Homo sapiens: one gene and its partner. The protein of the gene in region 1 interacts with the protein of each later gene in a pairwise test. Each region holds a gene or a part of one and is shown on either strand. Other genes may lie near its edges. The genes, in order: JAKMIP1 and ARK2N.

What was found.
Region 2: the proteins of JAKMIP1 (region 1) and ARK2N interact in binary tests that used the Homo sapiens proteins (3 or more experiments, as listed by UniProt).

The regions. Positions count from the first base shown.
Region 1 is NC_000004.12:6,098,905-6,111,444, reverse strand, and holds part of JAKMIP1 (janus kinase and microtubule-interacting protein 1), read left to right. Parts: intron 1-5,477; coding exon 5,478-5,972; intron 5,973-12,540. UniProt on the Homo sapiens protein: Associates with microtubules and may play a role in the microtubule-dependent transport of the GABA-B receptor. May play a role in JAK1 signaling and regulate microtubule cytoskeleton rearrangements.
Region 2 is NC_000018.10:46,209,233-46,221,772, forward strand, and holds part of ARK2N (protein ARK2N), read left to right. Parts: intron 1-6,578; 5' UTR 6,579-6,648; coding exon 6,649-7,363; intron 7,364-12,540. UniProt on the Homo sapiens protein: AMPK substrate important for exercise capacity and skeletal muscle function.

The DNA of each region.
Region 1 (12,540 bases):
CTTCTGACTTGGGTGGGCTTGAGGGTAGAGCAAGCCCAGGGTTCTGTGAGCCCAGAGAGGAGCTGCCAGCCAGGCTGAGCACAGAAAGAGCATGGAGATGCAGGCTTGCTCCTGGGTGGCTCGAGCAGTTGAAGGTCTATCTGAAGCCCCGAAGGTGCCCTCTGGCTCCTGCTGTAGTACCTGGAGTGACGGGTGGAGGCTGCTTGGGGAATTGCAGCAGGCGTCCCTGTCTTGTTGAGCTGGGACTCAGGTCGCCAATGGAGTGCTGGGCCAGATCCAGCTTCCAGGTGGGGACGGGGCTGGGGCCTGGGATCTGGCTGCAACCCCAGCTCAGGATGGCCACACAGAGCAGAGGCTGAGTTCTGGACCAGGGGACTGGGCTTCTGGAACTTGGGGACAGATGCACCTGTCTCCATCCCTAGGTGTTCAAGATTCCAGGCCGAGTGCATCCAGCCTCTTTTAGACATGGATGCTGGTGATGCTGACCTGTTCACCCTTTAGCCAGGTCAACAGGCCAGGTCACCTCCGGGGCTGGGGCTGGGGCTGACTGGCTGGGGGTGTAAGGGCTGGCAGCTTGTATCTGGACATAGCTACAGCAGCTGTGGTGACAGGGAAAGCTGCTCACTCATATCACACTGCCTGGGCTCAAATCCCCTCTCCACCACCACCCCTGCCTGAGGTCTTATAAGCTGTGTAACCCCCTGCCTCAGTTTTCCCATCTGTAGATGGGGACCTCTAAGGTGTCTGCCTCCTGGGTTGTTTGAGGAATGAATGAGACAGTCACACACAGGGCCTGGGTGCTGCCTGTCATACGCTCACATGACCATCAGGGTGACCTTTACATGCCTACTGTGCAGATAGCACCAGGTGCTTTAGAGGGTGTCATGACCCTGGCAGTGACCTGAGAGATCAGGTGTGGCTTCCCCCGTGTTACAGGTGAGCAAGCCAAGGGCTGGAGAGGGCGGGGACTTGCCCAGGTGTGTTAGCTTGCCAGGGCTGCAGTAACCAAGTCCCACAGATAGGGCGGCTTACGCAACAGACGATTGCTGTCTCACAGTCCTGGAGGCTGGCAGCCACAGATCCAGGTGTCAGGATTGGCTCCTTCTGAAGCCTCTCTCCTTGGCTTGCAGACGGCCGCCTTCTCCCTGTGTCTTCACATGGCTTTCTCCTCTGTGTTTGTCCATGTCTGTATTTTCTGTTCTTACAAAGACACCAGGCAAATCGGATTAGGGCCCACCCTAATGACCTCATTAGGATCTATCTCCAAATGGAATCACATCCTGAGGTCATGGGGGTTAGGACTTCAACATATGATTTTCAGGGGGACACAGTTTAGCCCCACACACGAGGCCAGCACAGTAGGTGGTATTGCAGGATTGAAAGCCAGGCCCATGCGGACCCCAGGCTGGGCCTCCCTGTTACCAGGCTGCCTCCCTGCCTCTGGGACGTGTGGCAATTTCCACTTGGATGCACGCTGGCTGATTATTTTCTCAATCCAGCCATCCATGTGGCCGCTTCAGGTTGACTTTACCCATCTGGCTGCTGGGAGAATTTCAATTCTCTGAGAATTCAGTAATGTGCTTATTGACTGGTACAAAAAACATAAATGCAAACTTTACAATTGCATTGAAGTGTTACTTTGATATGATCTCACAATCACTGTCAATGTCCCATTTAAAGTGCTGGCATTTTAGCAAAGCATCCCTGTTGAACACTGTAGGATGAAGGAGGGTGGTAAACGTGTCTGTCTATTCATCTGCAAACCCCTGGCATGCATGCTCCATGCCTGGGCTGAGTGAGAAGTGTTTGGAAGTAACTCAGAGACAGACCCTGTCCTCAAGTCGCATGGGTACAGAGCCTCACAGGAAACCAGCAATACAGCAGCCCTGGGCACATTCCATCAGAGGTTTTAGAAAATAGTGCAGGGACAAGCAGAACCCAAGGCTTCACAGGGGCAGTTTTGTGGGGGTTTTGTGGAGCATTTCCTTACTTTCTGGCATTATAAGATGCCCCAGGCTCCGCAGTGGCTCATGCCTGTAATCTCAGCACTTTGGGAGGCCAAGGCGGGCGGATAATGAGGTCAGGAGATCGAGACCATCCTGGCTAACACAGTGAAACTCTGTCTCTACTAAAAATATAAAAAAATTAGCCGGGCGCAGTGGCGGGTGCCTGTAGTCCCAGCTACTCTGGAAGCTGAGGCAGGAGAATGGCGTGAACCTGGAAGGCAGAGCCTGCAGTGAGCCAAGATCGTGCCACTGCACTCCAGCCTGGGGGACAGAGCGAGACTCCGACTCAAAAAAAAAAAAAAAAAAAAAAAAAAGGTGCCCCAGGCACATCTTGTATATTTCCTACCCCAGCGCTAGACCCAGCAGTTTCTCTAAGGGGTCCTGGTTCCTTTTATTGGAGAATGGCATTAGAAACAAAGATCCAGGCACCAGGCGTGCCCATCACTGCTGCGGTGTCATTGTTTCTAGGCCCTCTCAGCTGCCAGAACAAGGAATATATATGTGTATACTGACCTGCGTATGTACGCATACCTGTAAATATTTCCATATATGACATCTATATCCATACAAAGTCAAACATGAGTTCTTACAGATGTCCCAAGACGCATCCACTGCCGCATGGCTCCCTTCAGCCTCCTCTTGCTTGTCTGTAACCTCTTACTCCAAGTGGGAAACCTGGCTTCCCCCTCTGCCATCCACTTTCTTTGTTCAACACTATACATGTATGATGGTTTCAGAGTAGTGAACTGGTACCCATGAGATTTAGAGGGCTTTGAGCATGGAGGGTGTGGCGGGGAGGGCTGCTGCAGGTGGCTTGGGCAAGGGGGAAGTGGGGAAGTGGCCAGGCCTGGACATGGAGAGCCAGTGCTGCTGGATTGGATGAGGATGAGGATGGAAAGGGGTGAATCTGACTCACTCTCTGAGTGGGAGTGGCAAGTGAGGGTGGTGCTGGTGGTTCAGATAATTTCTCCACGCCAGCCCCCACACCCCCAGGGCATGCTCCCTCTCTTGGCCTTTGTGCCGTGGCTGCATTTAGAGTCCAAGTGCTGAGGAGCGGCTGGTGTAGGTGCCTCTACACTTGGGGTAGCTTGGAGGCACCTGGAGGTAAAGTGCTGGGCGGCTTTTTTTGGCCTGCTCAGCTGGATGGAGTGGTGGTGGGAGGGAGTGCTCTGTGCCCATCAGAGGTCACCCCAGCCTCACTCTGCTGCTTCTGTGGCATAGGTCATGTCACCTGGGCTTGGCTCTCAGCAGCTTTGGGCAGAGCTGGAGGGACCCAGCAGGGCCCTGTCCCCAGGCCCCTGCCTCTCTGTCACCATCCCTGCCCTACACACCTGGATCACCAGCCTCAGCAGCACCTCTGCCCCTCCCAGGAAGCAGCCCCTAGACGCCCCGGGCTGCCCTGCACAGGCCTCTGCCCACCCTTCCATGTTCCTCACCCCCTTTCTACCTGTGTCTCTCACACGAGGCTGCCCACCCCTGATGCAGAAAGTCAGAACCACGATAACAACAGACTTCCATTCACCCACCCACAGTCACCTCATCTTCCTCCTCTCAACGGGCCTTTGAGGGGCAGCTGTTGCCATCCCTGTTTCCTAGTAGAGGAAACTGGAGCTCTGGAAGGTTGTGTAGTCAGGGTTCTTCAAAGAAACAGAACCAATAGGTTGTGACACACACACACACACCCCCCACAGAGTGAGAGGTTATTCGTTAGTTTTAAGGAATCGGCTTATGCGGTTGTGGGGCTGGCAAATCTGAAATGTGTAGGGCAGACCAGCAGGCTGGAGATTCAGGCAAGGGTTGATCTTGCAGCTTCGAGTCCCAGTGCAGCCGGGAGGCAGAGTTCCTTCTTCCGCAGGGGACCTCGGTCTTCTCTTAAAGCCTTCGACTGATTGGATGAGGCCCACCTACATTGTGGAAGGCACCGTGCTTCACCCAGAGTCTACTGATGTAAATGTTAATCTCTTATAAAATGTACCTTCACAGCCACATCTGGACTGGTGTTTGACCAAACGACTGGGCATTGTGGCCCAGCCAAGTCGACCCACAACATCAGCCACCATAGAGGCAGAGAAATTTGCCTGGGGAAACGCAGCTCATCAAAGCAGATTAGGATCTCATTGGATCTGACCCTGCTGGCCCCAGATGGCTGTCGGCATTAACCAGGGACTTGACTGTTGCCTCGCAGGAGGGAGAACAGTCAAAACCATTTTGTCCATAACTGGGACAATTCTGTTAAATACTTAAAGTTCTGGCTTCCTGCTGCTAAATCCACTAGGAAAAGATGCTGATTGCTGCCCCCAGGGTAAGGTGGACAGAACATGGACTGGTCGCCTGGCTTCATTCCTATGATTGTGAGTATCTGGTGAAAGGAGATGTTGATCTTGTGTGTTTGCCTGGGTTGGTTTTATTTGCTTTTTTACCTGCTGTTTTAAGTAAGGATTTATCAATACTCAGGTGCCATTGTAAAACTTCTCACCTAAAATTAATTTTAACATGTGACTATGCTATCAACAGTGTGGTCTGGGGAAAAACATTGCCATTTTCCCTGGAAGCAGCTTGTCCACCAGAGGCAATTCATTTCAGGTCTTCAGAGACGGGCAGAATTCAGGAAATAAGGGCTTGTCAGGCGTTCCTGTGGAATGTGTGTTGAGTGATATTTGAAACAAAAAGGTTAAAGAAAGCATTTTGAAGTGTTTTAAGAACACACTCCCTTGGGACGTTTTATAAGTAATGTTTTGAATTGTTTGCTGATAAAATGAATAGGCTCAAGGCGGGGTGGGTTGCCTGGTAGCACAGGGTCCTCATCCCTCACCCTGGGCAGCTCACCAGACTGTCTCTGATCTTTGGCTGCCTCATGATAAAACAGAGGAGAGAGAGAGGAAGAGAGAGAGAGAGAGAGGAGAGAGGGAGAAAGAGAGGGAGCACGCTACTTCCTTCCCAAGACCGTGAGGGGTTCATGTGGCAATGTGGGTGATGCATTGGAGCCCCCAGCCCAGCTAGGGACCCCACTCAACAAGAATGGTGCCCCCTGCTCACTGCCCCCCAGGACTTAGAAGCCTGGTCTGTCTTTTCCAACTCCACAGTCCGCGCATGGGGCCCTGGAAATATATTTCTGGTTTACAATCTTTTGGGTCTTGGTGATGATTTCTGCAGGGTGTGTTTTGTGATTGAGCAGTCGTCTCAATTTACAACCTGGAAGAGATGTCAAAGGCTTGAATGCCTCTCCAGCATCCTCAGGGGGTTTCCACCCCCAGGGAAAGTCTCAGGGAACTAGCAGGAGAGATTCTAAGTGGGGCTGGCAGGAGGGTCAGGCCTGCAGGGCACTGCCGAAGGGGGAATCCATGGGAACGTGGGCCCAGGTGGGTGTCTTGGGCGTGGGGAGGCTGTGGCCAGCTCCCCCAGCTGTGACCCTGACCCTGACCCTGACCCTGACCCTGACCCTGACCGGCTCTCTCGCCGCTCTGGCTGCAGGTGGGCAAACTGCGCGAGCGGCTGCAGGAGGCGAAGCTGGAGCGCGAGCAGGAGCAGCGACGGCACACGGCCTACATTTCGGAGCTCAAGGCCAAGCTGCATGAGGAGAAGACCAAGGAGCTGCAGGCGCTGCGCGAGGGGCTCATCCGGCAGCACGAGCAGGAGGCGGCGCGCACCGCCAAGATCAAGGAGGGCGAGCTGCAGCGGCTGCAGGCCACGCTGAACGTGCTGCGCGACGGCGCGGCCGACAAGGTCAAGACGGCGCTGCTGACCGAGGCGCGCGAGGAGGCGCGCAGGGCCTTCGATGGAGAGCGCCTGCGGCTGCAGCAGGAGATCCTGGAGCTCAAGGCAGCGCGCAAGCAGGCAGAGGAGGCGCTCAGTAACTGCATGCAGGCTGACAAGACCAAGGCAGCCGACCTGCGTGCCGCCTACCAGGCGCACCAAGACGAGGTGCACCGCATCAAGCGCGAGTGCGAGCGCGACATCCGCAGGCTGGTACGTGCCGCCCCCTCCCCCGCCCGCGGGCACGCGGCCTTCCCTCCCTGCACGCATGGGGGAAATGCGGAGCTCCGAGGACCTGCTGTGCTCCAGGCATTGTTCAAAGCACTGGGGCCCCAGCAACCTCCCTCCCGTCTTAGGTGTGGTAAGGAGGCTTTGGGGCTGCAGGTAATCCGCTCAAAGAACAGTTCCCCATTTGTCAAAGGAGCTTAATGGAGACTAGCGAGGGTTGTTGCAAATGCCTCGTGATAGCGTATCTAAGTGTCGGGCATTTATTGATTCATTTACTTCAACAACCATGAGCAGACTTCCATCTCCAGGTAAGATGCCACAGGTCAGGGCAGGCCGGCCAACTGGCTGCAACAGCAAGGGAAACATATAAATTGCAAATAGTCCTGTTTTGAAAGATACTGGAGATCTGTGGAAGCTGTGGAGTGTGGATGAACTAAAATTCCAAAGGGAAGGGGAAAGAGCCCTGCCTGGGCGGCCTAATTGCCAGCTGCTTTCTTCCCTTGGGGCATTTGTGGATTCTGGGTGCGGGCTGAGGATTGGATGTCCTCAGAGAGATGAGTAGGACTTTTCTGCCATCTCAGAGTGGGCATGAAACAATGGAAACCAGAGGAGCCCCACCTAGGCCAGCTTGCTGCACAGGAGATCCTCCTGAGTCCTGGAGTGAAGGGGGAGGCTGGCGAGCCCAGCTGGAAAGGCAGAATGACAGCTCCCATGCCCTCACTGGACGTAGGAGACAAAGGGAGGGGGCCCGCCACAAACACATGACCAGTCTGCCCCTCAGGGCGTTTGTCACACTTTGAAGCTGTGTGGGGCAGGAGGCTAAGAAGTAAAGTAAGCTGAGATTTTCAGACTGGATCAAAGAGTAACAGTGATATTTACAAGAGAGACATCTTAATTATGAGGACATGGTGACATGGAGCATAAGAGGATGGGGAAAGATACACTGTGCAAGCACTTCCTAAAAGCAAAGCTGGTCTGGCTGTATTAATGTCAAAGGCTCTAAGGCAAGAAGTAATACTAAAGACACAAAAGGACAGTTCTTAATAATAAAGGGTCAATTCAGTGGGAATGCATTCAATAACAAAACCTCAAAATGTATAAAAGAAAAAAATTATCAACACTAAAAGGAGAAGCAGACAAATCCACAGTTACGGTTGGGGACGAACACGCTTCTCTCAGCAAACAGTAGAACACACAGACAAAGAATGAATAAAGACATGATTTCACCAACACAATTAACCAACGTGAACTTACCTGACAGAGCACTCTATTCCACAACTGCAGAATACTGTGGACATGACATACTTTTATCATTGTAGACCGCATTTCAAAATTTGTGGGTTGTAATTAGTCCTTAGAGCAAAACATATTTTAGACAAAAAGAAGAAATGCTGAAAATCAAGCATCTAAACTTCTATCTCAAGAAGAAAGAAAAAGAACAGCAAATTAAACTCCAGAGAGTAGAAGGAAGGAAATTTTAAAGAGCAAGAAGCAGTGAAATAAAATCAATAAAGAAAATCAACAAATTCAAGAGTTAATTAAAACTGATAAATTGACAAACATTTAGCAATATTGATAAAGCAAAACAGAGACAATAAATTACTAATATCAAAAATGTAAAGGGGGAAATACCACAGCTCCTACAGTCAATAAAACCACAGCAAACAGCATATACCAATAAACTTGAAACCTCGATAAAATGAACATATTCCTTGAATAAGCACAATGTACCAAAACTGACATGAAACAAATAGAAAATCTAAGTAGTCCTAAAGCTCCTAAATAAATTAAATCTGTAATGAATAATTTTCCTATGAAGAAAGGCCCAGGCCTAGATGGCTTCACAAGTAAATTCTTTCAAGTGTTTAAGAAAGAAGTAAAACTAATTCTAGCCAAAGTCTTCCAGAAAATAGAGAATTAGGAACACATTTTAACTAACTTATGAAGCCAGTGTAACTCTGATTCCAAAAGCAATAACATTACAGGATAAGAAAACTTTTGGATTACCTTTTATGAACATAGATACAAGAGTACGAGCAAGATATTAACATATCAAATCCAGCAATACATAGGAAGGCTAATAAGTCATAACCCAGCTGGGTTTATTCTGAAAATATAAAGATTGGCTTCATATTCTAAAATCACTGAATATAATTCAACATAATAATATGATAAAAAAGAAAAACGTGGTCAGTCATCTTAATAGATGCAGAAAAATCTGTTGGTAAAATTCAACTTCATGATATAAACTCTCCGAAAACCAGGAAAAGAATGGAATTTCTCTAATATGATAAATGGTTCTATCAAAAATCTTTTACAAGTAACATACATAATGATGAAATATTGAACATTTCCCACCCAAGTTCAAGGTCAAAACAAGATGTTGACTATTACCACTTCTAGTCAACATTGCATTGGCCAGGATGTCAAATATAAAATAAAATAAAATAAATAAAAGTTTCATTGGGAGGCCGAGGCAGGCAGATCACGAGTTTAGGAGATTGAGACCATCCTGGCTAACACAGTGAAACCCCATCTCTACTAAAAATACAAAAAATTAGCGGGGTGCAGTGGTGGGCGCCTGTAGTCCCAGCTACTCAGGAGGCTGAGGCAGGAGAATGGTGTGAACCTGGGAGGTGGAGCTTGCAGTGAGCTGAGATCGCGCCACTGCACTCCAGCCTGGGCGACAGAGTGAGACTCCCTCTCAAAAAAAAAAAAAAAAAAAAAAAAAAAAAGTCTTTAGAGAGGGAGAAAAAAGGGAAACTCATTATTTGCAGGTGCTATGGTTGTGATGTAGCAAACCCAAGACACCTGTTTTAGTTCATTACTGTTGCTATAACAAAATAACACAGACTGGGTAACTTATATATAATAGAAATTTTTTTCTTACCATTCTGGAGGCTGGGAAGTCCAAGATCTAGGCACTATCTGGCAAGGGTCCAGTTTCTGCTTCTAAGACAGTGCCTTGAATGCCATGTCCTCACATGGCAGAAGGAGTGGAATGACAAAAGAGAGGCAGGCAGCTCATATTTCTCTTATAAGGTCACTAACTCCCTTCATAAAGGCTTTGCCCTCATGACTTCATCACCTCTTAAAGACCCCATCTCCTAATACTATCACACTGATGATAAGTTTCAATGTATGAATTTTTGTGAGACACATTCAGAACATGGCAAGACCCTACAAACTATTAGAATTAATAAGTGAGTTTATCAAAGTCTACATATACAAGGTACATACACACAAATAAGTTGTTTCAATATATCAGCAGTGAACAATTAGAAAATGAAATCTTAAAAAATATCATTTACAGTAGAGCACCACAAAATTCAAATACCTAGGAATAAATCTAAGGAAAGTTGTGTAAGATGTCTCCCCTGAAAACTATAAAACATTGCTGAGAAAAACTTAAGGAGATCTAAATCAATGGAAAGGGATATCGTTTTCATCGATTAGAAGACTTAGTATAGATATCAGTTTTTCCATGATTGATCTACAGATTCAGTGCTATCCCTTACCAAAATCCCAGCAGACTCTTTTTTTTTTTTTTTTTTAACTGAGTCTTGCTCTGTTGCTCAGGCTGGAGTGCAGTGGCATGATCTCAACTCACTGCAACTTCTGCCTCCTGGGTTCAAGCAATTCTCCTGCCTCAGCCTCCCGAGTAGCTGGGATTACAGATGCCTGCCACCATGCCCGGCTAATTTTTTTTTTTTTTTTTTTTTTTTGTATTTTTAGTAGAGATGGGGTTTTGCCATGTTGGCCAGGTTGGTCTCGAACTCCTGATCTCAAGTGATCCACCTGCCTTGGCCTCCCAAAGTGCTAGGATTACAGACGTGAGTCACCACGCCCAGCCACCAGCAGACTTTTTAAATGCAGACATCGGCAAGCAGATTCTAAATTTGATGTAAAAATTGAAAGGATGTGGAATCACAATCTTGAAGAAGAGAAAAATTGGAGGTTTCATACAACCTATAACAAAGTTTACTACAAAGCTACAGTAATCAAGACAGTAGGCTGAAGGTTAGAGAGACACGTCAATGGAACAGAAGAGCCCAGAAGTACATCTTCACGTGTGTGGACAAAGATACCGTGGCAGTTCACTATAGAGAGGATGATCTTTCAATGGACAATATTGGACTGGTCAGCTATCTGTAAGAAAAAAAAACAGGAAATACACACACACACACACCACACACACTCTCTGTATATAGAGTATGAAGTCTATATCATACTACCCACAAAGATTAATTCAAAGTGGTCCATAGGCCTACATGTAAAAAGTAAAACAATATAGCTACTAGTAGAAAACAGACTATTTTCATGATCTTGGGACATGGTAAATATTTCTTAAGCAGGACACAGTACACTATTTACATAAATATACTATTCAGAGAGGGTTGTACATTGGACATGAAATAATCATTGTTCATCAAAAGACACTAATAAAAGAGAGACAAGGCAAATTACAGACTGAGAGAAGACATGTTCAATACCTATAACCACAAAGAACTTTTGTGCAGATTATAAAAACTATAAAATAATATGAAAACTCAAAAATGGGCAAAAGCTTGAAAGAATATTTCAAAAACAGGATAATTAAATGACTAACAAATATGTGAAAAGGTGTTCTACCTCATTGATCATCAGGGAACCAGAGTAAAATTACAACTAGATATAAATTCTCATCCACTAGAATGACTATTAAAAAAAAACAGACAATAGTAAATGTTGACTAGCATGTGGAGGAATGGGTACCGTCATTCTGATAGGACTTTAAAATGGTATAGCCACCTTGATAAATGGTTTTGTAGTTTCTTAAAAAGTCTAAAAAAAGGACACCTACGGACTCTGTAATTCTACTCCTAAGTATCTACCCAAGAGAAATGAAAACACATATCTATATAAAGATTTGTACATGAATGCTTATAGCATTATAATAGTCAACGAATGGGAGAAGCCCAAATGTCCTCAGTTGGTGAATGGATAAATGTGGCATGTCTATATAACACAATGTGATTCAACAATGAGAAGGTATGAAATATTGATATATGCTTCAATATCTATAACATTTCTGAACCTCAGAAACATTATGCTAAATGATAGAAGCTAGACACAAAAGACCTCATATTGTATGCTTGCATTTGTATGAAATCTCCAGAATAGCCAAATCTATATATCCAAATCTATAGTGGCTGACGGGGACTAGTTGGAATGGAGATTAGCTGTAAATGAGTGTGAGGGACCTTACTGGGCGAGGAAGGTTCTGAAACAGATTATAATGATGGCTCCACAACTTGGAAGACTTACTAAAAATCGGCGAAGTTCATGATTTATAAATTAAACTCTAAAATGTTTAAAACAAGAAAAATTGGAAATTTAAATAGGATTGATAAAAGTTTAATGGTGGATCTTGTATTTGCATTTAAAAGGAGCATATTTATAAGAGGAAGAACAGCACACAATGAAACAACACTGCCCAGGCACCAGGATGGCTAAATTAAAAAGCTAACAGTGCTGAGAAATGGCAAGGACGTGGAGCAGCCGTGCCCCTCGGTAGCATCCCATACACTAAAGTGCCCTAAAACGAAACAGAGACATCTGTTAACTCAGAATTTCTCATCAAGCAAAAAATATTATTTTACAATAAGAGTGAAATAAAGACATTTTAGGTAAAAGGAAGCTAAGATTATTTGTCGCCAGAGGCTGTACCACCAAAAATGCTAAAGGAGGTTCTGCAGGTGAAGAGAAACAATGCCAGATAGGAATTTAGTTCTCTTGGAAGGGAATAAAGAACAGGAGAAGTGGGTAAAGGAGAGTCAATGTCTGAGACGATCTCTTTTTCTCAGTGTATTCAAAACACAAGTGACTGTTTAAAGCAAAAGAATCAGATTGTATTGTGGGGTTTATGACATATGCAGACGTAAAATGCATAAAACAATCTAGAAAGGATGGGGTGGGGGTGGTTGGTGGAAAATGGATCTGTGCTCTCGCACAGTCCTTCAGTCTTGTCTGAGGGGGTGCGTGACGCTATGAGTTCAAGGAGGCTGTGACAAATCAAGGTTTAAAAAGGCAGCACAAGGAGGCACAGATAAAAAGCAAATGGGGAAATAAAATGAGAGACTAAAGAAATCTGTTTGCACTAAAAGAGGGTAGCAAAGAAGGACCAAAGCAGGGGAAAAAAACAGACGAGACAAATGGAGAAGAGACAGCAAAACGGTGGAATTAAAGGAGTCATATCAGTAGTTACATTAAATGTAAATGGACTAAACCAGTTAAAAGGCAGAAATTGTCAGAGTGGATACAAAAGTCACACTTTAAATATAAAGACCCACTTTCCCTGAAGGAAAAGGATAGAAAACATGCTCTGTGAGCAATAAATGTAGCAATAGGATGGATAAAGGTGTATTTAGTCAATGGGATATTACACAGCACTGGGAAAAAATGAATTTCCAAAACAGGCAAGAAAATGAATGAATTTCCCAGCCGTGGTGTCAGAACCAAACCAAAGAAGATGAGCACAAAAGCTACATACTATATGATTTTACTCACATGA
Region 2 (12,540 bases), on another chromosome or scaffold:
CTCAGCAGTTTTAATCTCTGTCAGATTCTCTGTAGCAGATGTTATAATACTTCTCCACTTTTTTTTTTTTTTTTTTACAAACCCCCAAGCCTGCCTTCTTTCCACTTTGTATTAAGCTTTGCTGACCAAGAAGGAGGTCTGATATGAACTTCCTCAACTTTTCTCTTCCAGATTTTCACAAGTAGCCTCATTCAGCTTTATACTTTATAGTTCCTGTCTCCTGTTTGAGCACTGTATACTGCTTAAATTCCATGGTTTAACTCTTTGAGCTGTACACATCTTTTGTCATCTTAGTTTCTTAAAGAGTACAAGGGCTAAAAAGTGAATTCATTTTCATTGTCCATAATTAACAACCTGTTTTTTGTTTTGTTTTGTTTTTTAAAGATGGAGTCTTGCTCTGTCACTCAGGCTGGAGTGCAGTGGCGTGGTCTTGGCTCACTACAACCTCTGCCTCCCGGGTTCAAGTGATTCTTCTGCCTCAGCCTCCCGAGTAGCTTGGACTACAGGCGTCCGCCACCACACCCGGCTAATTTTTGTATTTTTAGTAGAGATGGGGTTTCACTATGTTGGCCAGGGTGGTCTTGAACCCCTGACCTCGTGATCCGCCTGCCTCGGCCTCCCAAAGTGCTGGGATTACAGGCGTGAGCCACCGTGCCTGGCCAACAAACTGTTTTTTCAGATTATTGCATATAATCTGTTTTCCTCCACATTCACCACTGATCAAAAAGCAATATTTAATCCCCTTTTAAAAGGAGAGAAAAACATCAGATAAATCTCAACTTGCCTTTACCCATCCTCCTCTACCCTACCTTCTAGGACTTAAAAAAAAATACTTTCTCTCATAAAGAGAACATATTTACCTTGTAGAAATATTGTTCTGCCTGCTATGTAGAGAACAGGTTGGTGCATAGGAGAAAGACTGAGTTTGAAGAGACAGGTGATGATAGTCAATACTATTGAAAATAAATGATGGAGGTTGTGTCTAGAGTGGTGACAGCGGATATGGAGAATAGTGGACAGACTAGAAAACTATTAAAGAGGTGGGATTGATAGGAGTTAGTGAATGATGGACATGGTGAATGATGGGATGCAGTGAGTAAAGAAGAAGGCATTGTCAAAGATAACTCAGGCTTTTGACATGAGCAACTGAGATAATAGCAATAGTAGTACTATTTACTGAGCTAGAGAAAGCCAGAGAAGGAGCAGAGTGGGGTAGATCAGAGATGATCTGGATTTGAATATGATGTGATTGTGGTACCTTTCCAAAATCTAAATACAGATGTCAACTGGGTATTTGGGTGGACTGGTATAGAGCTCAGAGATCTGAGTTGGAGAAATAAAATTACTAGTCTAGGGATGGTATTGGAAAATGTGGGTTTAGAAGAGCTCACTTTGGGCCAGGTATTGTGGCTCACACCTGTAATCCTAGCACTTTGGGAGGCCGAGGTGGGTCGATCACTTGAACTCAGGAGTGTGTAACCAGCCTGGGCAACATGGTGATACCCCGTCTCTACAAAAAATACAAAAATTAGCCAGGCATGGTGGCTTGCACCTGTAGTCTCAGCTACTTGAGGGGGCTGAGGCGGGAGGATCACTTGAGCCAAGGAGGCAGAGGTTACAGTGAGCCAGGATGGCGCCCCTGCATTCCAGCCTGGGCGACAGAGTGAGACCCTGTCTTAAAAAAAAAAAAAAAAGAACTCACGTTGGTGGATGGGAAAAGGACCTAGACCTAGGATTAAATCCTGAGATTTGGTAGAGGAAGTTAAGCCTACAAAGTAGATTGGGAAGGACTAACCAGAAGAATAGAGAAACCTTGAAGCCAAAGAAAGGCATTAATTGGTTTAAAGAGCAGAGAGAGTCGTCAGGCATAAAATGTTGCTTAAATATTAAGTAAAATTAGGGCCAAAATATGTTGGATTTAGAGATAGTGAGGTCATTAATGACCCTGGTAATAAATGTTCCACTGGTTTTTTTTACTTTTGTTTTTATTTTTTGAGACAGGGTCTTGCTCTGTTATGCAGCCTGGAACGTACTGTTGCAAACACGGCTCATGACAGCCCTGACCCCCTGGGCTCAAGGCATTCTCCTTGCTGAGCCTCCCCAGTAGCTGGAACCACAGCATGTGCCACCATGCTCAGCTAAATTTTAAATTTTTTGTAGAGATGGGGTCTTGCCATGTTGCCTAGGCTTGTTCCACTGGTTTGATAGAAGGAGATGTCAGGTTGCATTGGGTTGCAGAAGGGAGTGTGAGAGTTAAGGAAATAGAAGTTTATACAACTCTCACAATAAGATTGACTGTGAAAGACGAGCATGATACCTGGAGAGGGAGATGTGAGATTGAAGGTGATAGGTCAAAGGAGGATTTCAAAAATGAATGAATGGTCCAGTTGGGTGTGGCAGGTGGACGAGAGCCAAGGAATAATCAATAATGTAAGATATTAGGGAAATGAGAGGGAGATGAGCTCTAGTACTCATGTAGAGGAGGTTGCGTTTAGATTGGAGGGAAGAACAGCATGGGGGAAAGTGCTGTTCTAATAGGAAAAATGTTGTGTATTTATTACTTCACTGAATATAAATTTACTGTCAACATTAACCCAGAGGGTTGATAGCCTTTTATGCCATTTATGTGATGCAATTCCTATTTGACAATTATATCATTTTATACTGCTAGCTACTTGACTGTTCCTACCAGAAAAACCTATTTTTTTCCCCTTGACCAAAAACAATATATGCAGTAAATAATCTGGTTGTATGGAAAGATTAATCTTTATGTATGACATCATTTCCCCCTGTGGTTAGGGCACTTCGTTTTTATTCCACTGAAGGGAGTTTAGTCAGAGCTTATATTTTCACTTTCTGTGACTTTTTTCTCCTGTATTTAATTAATTATAGCAAAATTCCACTATAGGAAGAAAGCATAGTAGAATTTATTGACTAAGCTTGACCCAAAGAGTAGTCTAGTGTTATGGCCCCAGAAAAGCACAACTTCTTTTTCTTCAGAAGACTTTTATGTCAGAGTGGATTTTTGAATAGATAATGTTTGTATACATCACAAATTCAAGAGATACAAAACTGCATACCACACTGTCTTCTCCTGTTCCCTTATTCACCTGCTTTCCTTCTCAACTGGTATTACTATTTTCTTAAGTATCTTTCCAGAGTCTATGCATCTACAGATAAACTCATGTAAATATAGTTTTGTTATTTATTTACATAAATGCTATAATGTATCTTTTTTCATTAAAATTGCGTGAGAACTGTTTCTTACCTCTCTATATAAAGTGCTTTCTCATTTTTTTAATGGCCACATTGTATGAACATACCATGATGAGCTAACTTTTGTCCTGTTTGTGGTCAATACTAGTCTTTTGTGATTGATTTGAGCATATTTAAGTGGTTTTGACTGCAATACCGGTTACTAATTTAGGTAGTATAAATTAAATCTCAGTTAACACTCAAATTTAAGGAACTTGAAAGATAATCATTAAATTGAATGATGTGCCATATTGTCATTTTTTTTTAACAGGGAAAAACAATCTAGATTTACCTGTTTTATCCACACAACTTATTTCTTGAAGAAACAAGCGTTGTATGGTCATTTTAACAAATTTACTTTTTAGTCTGATGCTGTATTATGTACTTTGAAAATATCCAGTGCTGCCTTCTTTCACAAATTGAGACTTTTGATGCTTGTCCTATATAGCTGACATTAATTCCATCTGAGTATATTTTCTCAGATATTTTAGCTTTAAGAAGAATTTTTTTTTTTTTTTTTTTTTTTTTTTTGGAGACTAAGTCTCACTCTGTCGCCCAGGCTGGAGTGCAGTGGCGGGACCTCGGCTCACTGCAAGCTCCACCTCCCGGGTTCAAGTGATTCTCCTGCTTCAGCCTCCTAAGTAGCTGAGATTACAGGTGCCTGCCACCACGCCTGGCTAATTTTTGTATTTTTAGTAGAGATGGGCTTTGACCATCTCGGCCAGGCTGGTCTTGAACTCCTGATCTCGTGATCCACCTGCCTCGGCCTCCCAAAGTGCTGGGAATACAAACGTGAGCCACCGTGCCCAGCCTTAAGAAGAATCATTATTCCAGAATATACAATTTGAATCTCCATAATAGAATTAACTCTCATTTTTATTCAGTTAGAAAATCTTTGTCCCCCCCACTGCTAAATTTGACTGGCTTAAAAAAAAGAACTTGGGTTTATTCCTCATACCTGGGGGTATTTTGTATCTGTGAATATTTTATTTCGTGTTTGTATTGACAGCATGCTTTATTTATAACGGTCTCCGTTGGTTTAACTGTTACTCCCTCTGTTGGCTTTCAGAGGTGTTACATTTTTTTGTAATGGTGTCAGAAAAAATATTTATGCTGATTTTCACTTAGCCTCCAACATTAGTATTATAATTGATACAAATATGCTTGTGAAGTAGGCTACACACAAGATTGTTTTATTTATTTTTTATTTATTTTATTTATTTTTTTGAGATGGAGTCTTGCTCTGTCACCCAGGCTGGAACGCAGTGGCGTGATCTTGGCTCACTGCAACCTCCGCCTCCCAGGTTCAAGCAGTTCTTTTGCCTCAGCCTCCCGAGTAGCTGGGACTACAGGCGCTCGCCACCATGCCTGGCCAATTTTTGTATTTTTAGTAGAGACGGGGTTTCACCATGTTGGCCAGACTGGTCTCGAACTTCCAACCTCAGGTGATCCACTTGCCTCCACCTCCTAAAGTGCTGGGATAACAGGTGTGAGCCACCACTCCTGGCCTAGGATTGTTTTAAATTAACAGATGTTTCAGTGGCCATGAATGTTCTGGTTTCCATGAATGTGTTAAGGAAACTTAATCAGAATGCCTGTTTTATCAACAGCTGAGAACAGGGCTATGAAAAACAACAGGCATATAGAATATTTATGTTTGTATTAAGCAAAAAGTGGGCTTGGCATGTTAGATCTGTTTTAAAGGATTTTGCAAATATTTCCTAGTTTTTGTCTGCTATAGATTGAACTATCTAGGTAACTTGATGGAGTGAGATGATGGAGATGCCATATTGCACCTAGCATACCGTATAGAATAATGGTTATGTGTGTCTGTGACCTATGGACATGATAGTTGCTTTCTGTAATGTAACACATACAGGGCAAGGTATTTACTTGTTTTCCATATTTAGCATCCTCTTTAAAAACCACCAGATTTTCAATAGGTTCTTGGAAACTGCGACTTTAAATGGAACAAGATACTGCTGGTCTTTGAATGATGTCCTTTAGTTATAAGGTTAATGAGAAAAATTGGTTTTGTTAAATGTCATTTCACTTAAAGTCTCAGTTTCCAAGAACCTGTTGACAATGTTAAGTAAGGACTTAACTGTATATAGGTCATAAGCTTTTGAGGTTAAATATTATGTCCTGTACCTGTATGGTTAATTGGAGTTGTATCACTCACAGTGGTGGTAGAGTGTTAGGTTCTAAATTTAGCATACAAAGTGTACAATGGGTGTAGAGTATTTTCTCTTAAATCCCTTTATTCATTCATAGAATATACTAGGCTTTCTGGGTTCTGTATTTAGTGACCATTGTGGATAAAACATCTATTTAAACACTAGACTCAAATTCAGCATGATGAGGTATGTGGGAGCTAGGTAGGATTGAGGAAGCATCAAATTCTGGCTTTTCATCTTAATGCTTCACTAGAGCAACTCCTATTGAGGGGACTGCAGACAAGTTGGATGCATAGTATTTGGTTGCTCATTTGCCAAATGCATGTAGTTGGAGTGTGTTTGTGTTTTTGTTTTTTTAAACATAAATGTAGGGGCCAGGCACGGTGGCTTACTCCTGTAATCCCAGCAGTTTGGGAGGCCACAGTGGGTGGATCACTTGAGCTCAGGAGTTCGAGACCAGCCTGGGCAACATGGTGAAATCCTGTCTCTACAAAAAATACAAAAATTAGCCGGGTGTGGTGGTGTGCGCCTGTAGTCCCAGCCATTTGGAAGGCTGAGGCAAGAGAATTGCTTGAGCCAGGGCAACGGAGGTTGCAGTGAACTGAGATTGCACCATTGCACTCCAGCCTGGGTGGCAGAGTAAGACCCTGTCTCAAAAACAAACAAACAAACAAACAAAAACATTTGATGTTTCTCTATTGTAACTCCCCTCCTCCCACCTCCTTTCTTTTTGGATTTGAATGTAAAAGTAGTCATTCCAGGTAATGCATTTCTAGACTAGTTTTAAAGCATTCTTTTTCATTTATATCAAAGTCAATGAATGCATATTAATTATATCAGAGTTTTGAAGATTTCTTTGTAGAACACTTTAAATAAAATTGTAAACTTGAAAATGTTCATTACATGTTGGCCTTTCAAGTTAGAGGATTAATATTATGGCATTTTTAGTAGCTCAGTATGCTTAGATTTTGACCGTATTAAGTCCTTTGAATTTGACTGTTGATCAAACAAGCAGATAATAATATATATATATTTTAAAGGCCTGTGTAATAGTAAGTTTTGCCCCACCCACTTAGAAAGGTAGGCATGTTGTGTTGACTAAATAATCTGGCATTCTGTTTATTGACTTTGTGTGTTTTTGTACAGGTTGCTTTCCTGTTGCATCTTTGATATCATTTCCTAGACTCTACTCCATGATTTAACTTGAAATTCTGAAATGAAGATGGAGGAGGCAGTGGGAAAAGTTGAAGAACTCATTGAGTCCGAAGCCCCACCAAAAGCATCTGAACAAGAGACAGCCAAGGAGGAAGATGGATCTGTAGAACTGGAATCTCAAGTTCAGAAAGATGGTGTAGCGGATTCTACAGTTATTTCTTCAATGCCCTGCTTGTTGATGGAACTGAGAAGGGACTCTTCTGAGTCTCAGTTAGCATCCACAGAGAGTGACAAGCCTACAACTGGCCGAGTTTATGAGAGTGACTCCTCTAATCACTGCATGCTTTCCCCTTCCTCTAGTGGTCACCTGGCTGATTCAGATACGTTGTCTTCCGCAGAAGAGAATGAACCCTCTCAGGCAGAAACGGCGGTAGAAGGAGACCCTTCAGGAGTGTCTGGTGCCACAGTTGGGCGCAAGTCTAGGCGGTCCCGATCTGAAAGTGAAACTTCCACTATGGCTGCCAAGAAAAACCGGCAATCCAGTGATAAACAGAATGGCCGAGTCGCCAAGGTTAAAGGTCATCGGAGCCAAAAGCACAAGGAGAGGATCAGGCTACTGAGGCAGAAACGGGAGGCTGCTGCAAGGAAGAAATATAACCTGCTGCAGGACAGTAGTACCAGTGATAGTGACCTGACTTGTGACTCAAGCACGAGCTCATCAGATGATGATGAAGAGGTTTCAGGGAGCAGCAAGACAATCACTGCAGAGATACCAGGTAGAGGATGTTTTTTAAACTGACTGTAAAGTACCTGATGGCATTTCTCAGCTATCAGGTTCAGTTAGATGAGTGACACTTGAAAAAATCCAGGAGACCTGCAGCTCTGTGTAAATTTGAAGACTGCAGTCTATTAACAAGACATGGCCAATTTATAAAACCTGTTCTGAGGTTTCCAGTGAACTTTAGCACATCAGGAAAAACAAAATTAAAGGGTTAATGATAGGGACAAGATTATTTTTAAGTAATGGAATTTCTCATAAGTCTGTCTGTAACACATTACCTGAACTCCCAATCATTGCCTTTTTGGCACTGCTTAGATTTAATACTCACTGTTCGGCATCATTACTGAGTACATTCTCCTCAGGAATAGGCACCTTGCTTTATTATATAGCCACTGCACTTGAGCTTATAGTGTCTGAAATAACACATTCTATCTTTTGTTAAAGTTTTCTAATAATTTTTCCTCCAAAAACAGTAGTTTTATGTGTTTCCCCCATATTCAATGCATGAGAAGCTAGTTATCCTTGTTACAAATCTTTCTATCCTCACGTTGAAAAGAATGTCTTTCTGAAAAATTTCCCATTAGTTCCCCAAGTTTTAAAAAAGTTTGTTAGAAATCCGCTTGTTCTAGCTCTCATTGGTATAAGGGTCTGTAACTTATTACATATTTGGTAAATCTGCTTTCCCCATTCTTATTGCATCTGGTACTGTGTACTATAATACAAAGGCAGTCTTGAGATTTCATAGTGGAAGAAAGATGTATCTGAATGGTTCTTAAGTAGTGAATTCTTATTATCCAAGAGATCCTTACAATATGATCAGGAACATTTTGTAAACTGTATGGCATTGAATAGGTCATGGCAGTATTGTTTATTGCCACATTGAAGAGGGGCAAGTTTGGGTTTTCTAAAGTTTTATGGGTGACTATGTTTTTTCTCTCCCTGTTTTCTGAAAGCTTTCTGTTTCTACATGTGAAGACAGCATATTGCTGATATACAAAGAACATTTCAAGAGAAATCATATTGGTTAATGGAATCTATAGCTTCCCAAACTTATATAAATTCAGTAACAAGAATGATTGGTTTTAAAGCACTTTATAGGTGTTCAAGTTCTGATAATAAGTCTTGTCCATATAATATAAATATGAGTCTCAAACGATCTTTAGAAATGCTTTTTACTGTTTTAATATCTCTATTGGATTCCTTTGCTATTGTTCCTTGTAATAAAACTACCGGGAGGGGGATTTCAATGAAGCTCATCAGTTAAATGTATGAGAGAAACAGACTTTGGGGTTGTTCTAAGGCAGGTTTTAGGTATATATTTTAGTTTTACATGTATTAATATTTTTAAAAAAACCTTATTAATACCTGTAAAATTGTGCATTCCTATATCCTCTTCTAACCTCTTAATCAAGACCTTGATGGAACTCTTAATACAATACTTACTTCCACTTACTAAGCAGGATTTTATGTAACTACCCCAATACTTTGCCTTTTTGTGGAAAGGAAGAAGGTGGGTAAACAAAATTTAAAGTCAGAACCCTATTGTAAGGTGGCTTGAGAAATGTCTTCATAGGCACTTTCCCTGTTTTGCTTAAATAGGTTAGATGTGCTTTGTTCATATTTTCCTAATCTTCTTTCTAATTGAGTATCTTGACCACTGCTTAAAACTTAAAACACCAGTGTCTGTTTCTTGTCTCTTCTGAATTGTGTACTAACTGAACACCAAAGTAAATTAATTTGAATCTATAGTTTGGTTTCTATTGTTCACACCATTTAGTAACTTTGTGGCTTTTGAAAATACACATAGTTTTCTAAGGTAATCCTGGAGAATCAAATGGTAGATTGAGGTACAGGGTCACTGTATGTGACTGCCTGTGTGTGTGCTGGCAGTTTTGGGAGGTCTTATGGTATACCTGCCATTCCCATAAGACAGGTATGAATGATCTTTACTGGAATTATGCAAAGCAGCAAAAATGGAACAACTTAGAGTTCAAATATTAGGAATTTCATTTCAATTGTCCATATTGTTGTCTCTTGAAAAATTGTGACATTGTGAATTTTTAATGTAACAGTGATGTATCTTTCAGTTTACTGAGTCACCTTATGACTTTGGGGAAGAGAGGAGGCACGTTCAACCTTATAGTAAGAGCAGTTGTCGAAAAGTTGCCTAAATTGTAAAGGTAGGATAAATTATGAACTGACTTGAGTTCAACAACATGGACATTCAGGTGAACTTAAGCTGGATGGGCCTAACAGAATCTCTTGGATGTCGGAATGTTAATTCAGCTGTTTACACAGAATGGAAACCAAGTGGAAAAGTAAAAACCGATTATTGCCATACTCTTTCATTAAGGTACAACCAATTTAGTAATTCAGAAAATGCTCTTTATAAGCTTTTGTTTGGGCTCAGCTTAAAAGTTGAAGGCATTATCCTAAATAATTCCTGTTAGGATATCCTAATACCTTAATCCTAAATGTTATGCCAAATAATTGTAACTGTTAATGCATATTCTTTTAGAGAGTGCAAATAATTAATAATGCAGACCAGTGTAGTGCATGATCATACTTTAATTGAGTTTGATATCTGGGCAACAGATGTTTATGACGATTTTTTAAAGTTAGCAGTTAACTGACAGGCAGCTTAGTATCGGCACTAGATCATCTCTCTTTGAAGTTTTTGGAAATATATTGATGTTTTAAGAATCTGTTTGGAGGTATCATATCAAAATAATGCTGGCAGTACTTTCATTTGGCAGACTTAGAGTTGAGTAAAGGGCATTTTATAGTAAATTTATAATATTTTATAGTGAATTCATGTAAAAGTACTATGTGATGGTTATCTTGAGTATCAAGGCTTTTTATCAAGTGATTTCTTTTTTTTTTTTTTTGAGACCGAGTCTTGCTCTGTCACCAGGCTGGAGTGCAGTGGCGCGATCTCTGCTCACTGCAACCTCCGCCTCCCAGGTTCAAGCGATTCTCCTGCCTCAGCCTCCCAAGTAGCTGTGACTACAGGCGTGTGCCACCATGCCCAGCTAATTTTTTTGTATTTTTAGTAGAGACGGGGTTTCACCATGTTGGCCAGGATGGTCTTGATCTCCTGACCTTGTGATCCGCTTGCCTTGGCCTCCCAAGTGCTGTGATTACAGGTGTGAGCCACCACGCCCGGCCATTATCAAGTGGTTTCCTTATGCATTATCTTTTTGTGCTTTGATCATGCTCTGCAGTTTTATGATTAGAGTATTACTGTTCATGGGGGGTCAGTTTCTCTGTAAAAGCAGTTTTGAGACTAGCTCTATAAAATCTGTAGTTGGAGGGATTTTGATTTTAATGTAAATAATGGACATTAGCCTTCATTCAGTTTGAAAAAGTTAATTTTTTGAACATACTAACATACGTGCATCGGTGTACATGGTCAGTGGGGAAAAGTTTTTCCAGTAACTGTTTTTCATAAATATTTAGCAGAGTGGACCTCCATACAGGGTAGCTTTATCTTGTCTTGTCTTTAATGACCTGCTTTGTGGTTAAATGCTTATTCACACCGAAGTTCCAAAAATAATACCCCTCGTGGCAGGTAAGAGTCGGTTGTCTTGGTTTGTTTGCCTTTGAAAATCTCATTTCTTTTGGAGAATGTCATTGAGGCTACTGAGGACAGCTGTTTAAGTTTACTTGAATTCTCAATCCATGCAGCCAGGCTAGACCAGCTCAGCCCCACTTCAAGACAAAATCTCAGCACCCATTACTCACCATACATATTTATGCAGTGAGCTGCATCATGACCAGCTATCATCTTACCTCATAGTTTTTTTCTCTGGTAGAGATAATTAACTTATTATGCTTGATCAGTTAACTCTTGCTTAGAAATTTAAAAAATATTTTTAAGTGACAAATTCTTTGTAGAAATTTTTGAAAATAGAAATATTTGAAGTAGAAAGTTAAAATCACCCACAATTCTGCTTTTGTTAACATTTGAATATGTTGTCTTCCATGATATATAACAAAATTTGTCTGGGTATTGCATATGTCGTCCTTTCCTTCTTAATATTGCATTTTGAGCATTTAACCAGAACACTAAATATTCTCCCTAGAACATATGGATTTTGAATAATTTAGCTAATTATAAAAATAACTTCCCTAATGGTCCTTTGGGCTCTTTTAAGTTTTTGCTGTTATACGTTCAGGGTATGAACACTTAAGGCTCTTGACCACATACTGCCATACTGCCATACTGCCATACTGCTTTTAAAAAATAATTAAGCTGAGTGCGATGGCTCACGCCTGTAATCCCAGCACTCTGGGAGGCCAAGTCAGGTGGTTCATTTGAGGCCAGGAGTTTGAGACCAGCCTGGTGAACTTGGTGAAACCTCATCGCTACTAGAAATACAAAAGTTAGCCAGGTGTAGCAGCATGTACCAGTAGTCCCAGCTGCTCCGGAGGCTGGTGTGGGAGGATTGCTTGAGCCCAGGAGGCAGAGGCTGTAGTGAGCCATGATTGAGCCTCTGCACTCCAGCCTGGGTGACAGAGCGAGACTCTGTCTCAAAAAAATCCAAACAAAAACAAAAATAAGTTTATTTCACCTGGGAGCTTGAGTGTTCATGCATTGTATTCTTGCTATTGAATATTAATTTTTTTTAAAAGCTTGCTGATTTGATAGAAGAATGATATCTTGCTGGTGTGGTGTCTCATGCCTGTAATCCCAGCACTTTGGGAGGCTGAGGCAGATGGATTACCTGAGGTCAGGAGTTCGAGACCAGCCTGGCCAACATGGTGAAACCCCATCTCTACTAAAAATACAAAAAAAAAAAAAGAAAAATTAGCCGGGTGTGGTGGCGCGCGTCTGTAGTCCCAGCTACTCGGGAGGCTGAGGCAGGAGAATCACTTGAACCTGGGAGGTGGATGTTGCAGTGAGCCGAGGTCATGCCACTGCACTCCAGCCTGGGTGACAGCAAGACTCCATTAAAAAAAAAAAAAAAGGTATTTTGATGTTAATTTGCATTTCTTTGATCACTAGTGAAATTGAAAAACGTTTAGCTATTTGTATTCCTTTGGTAAAGTCTGTTCATATTCTTTGCACATTTTTCTTCTGACGTGTTTTTTCTTACTAATTTTTGAGGCTTTTTAACCTTTTGGGGGTTTAATTGCTTGGCAAATTTTAAATATAAGGCAGTGAGGAGG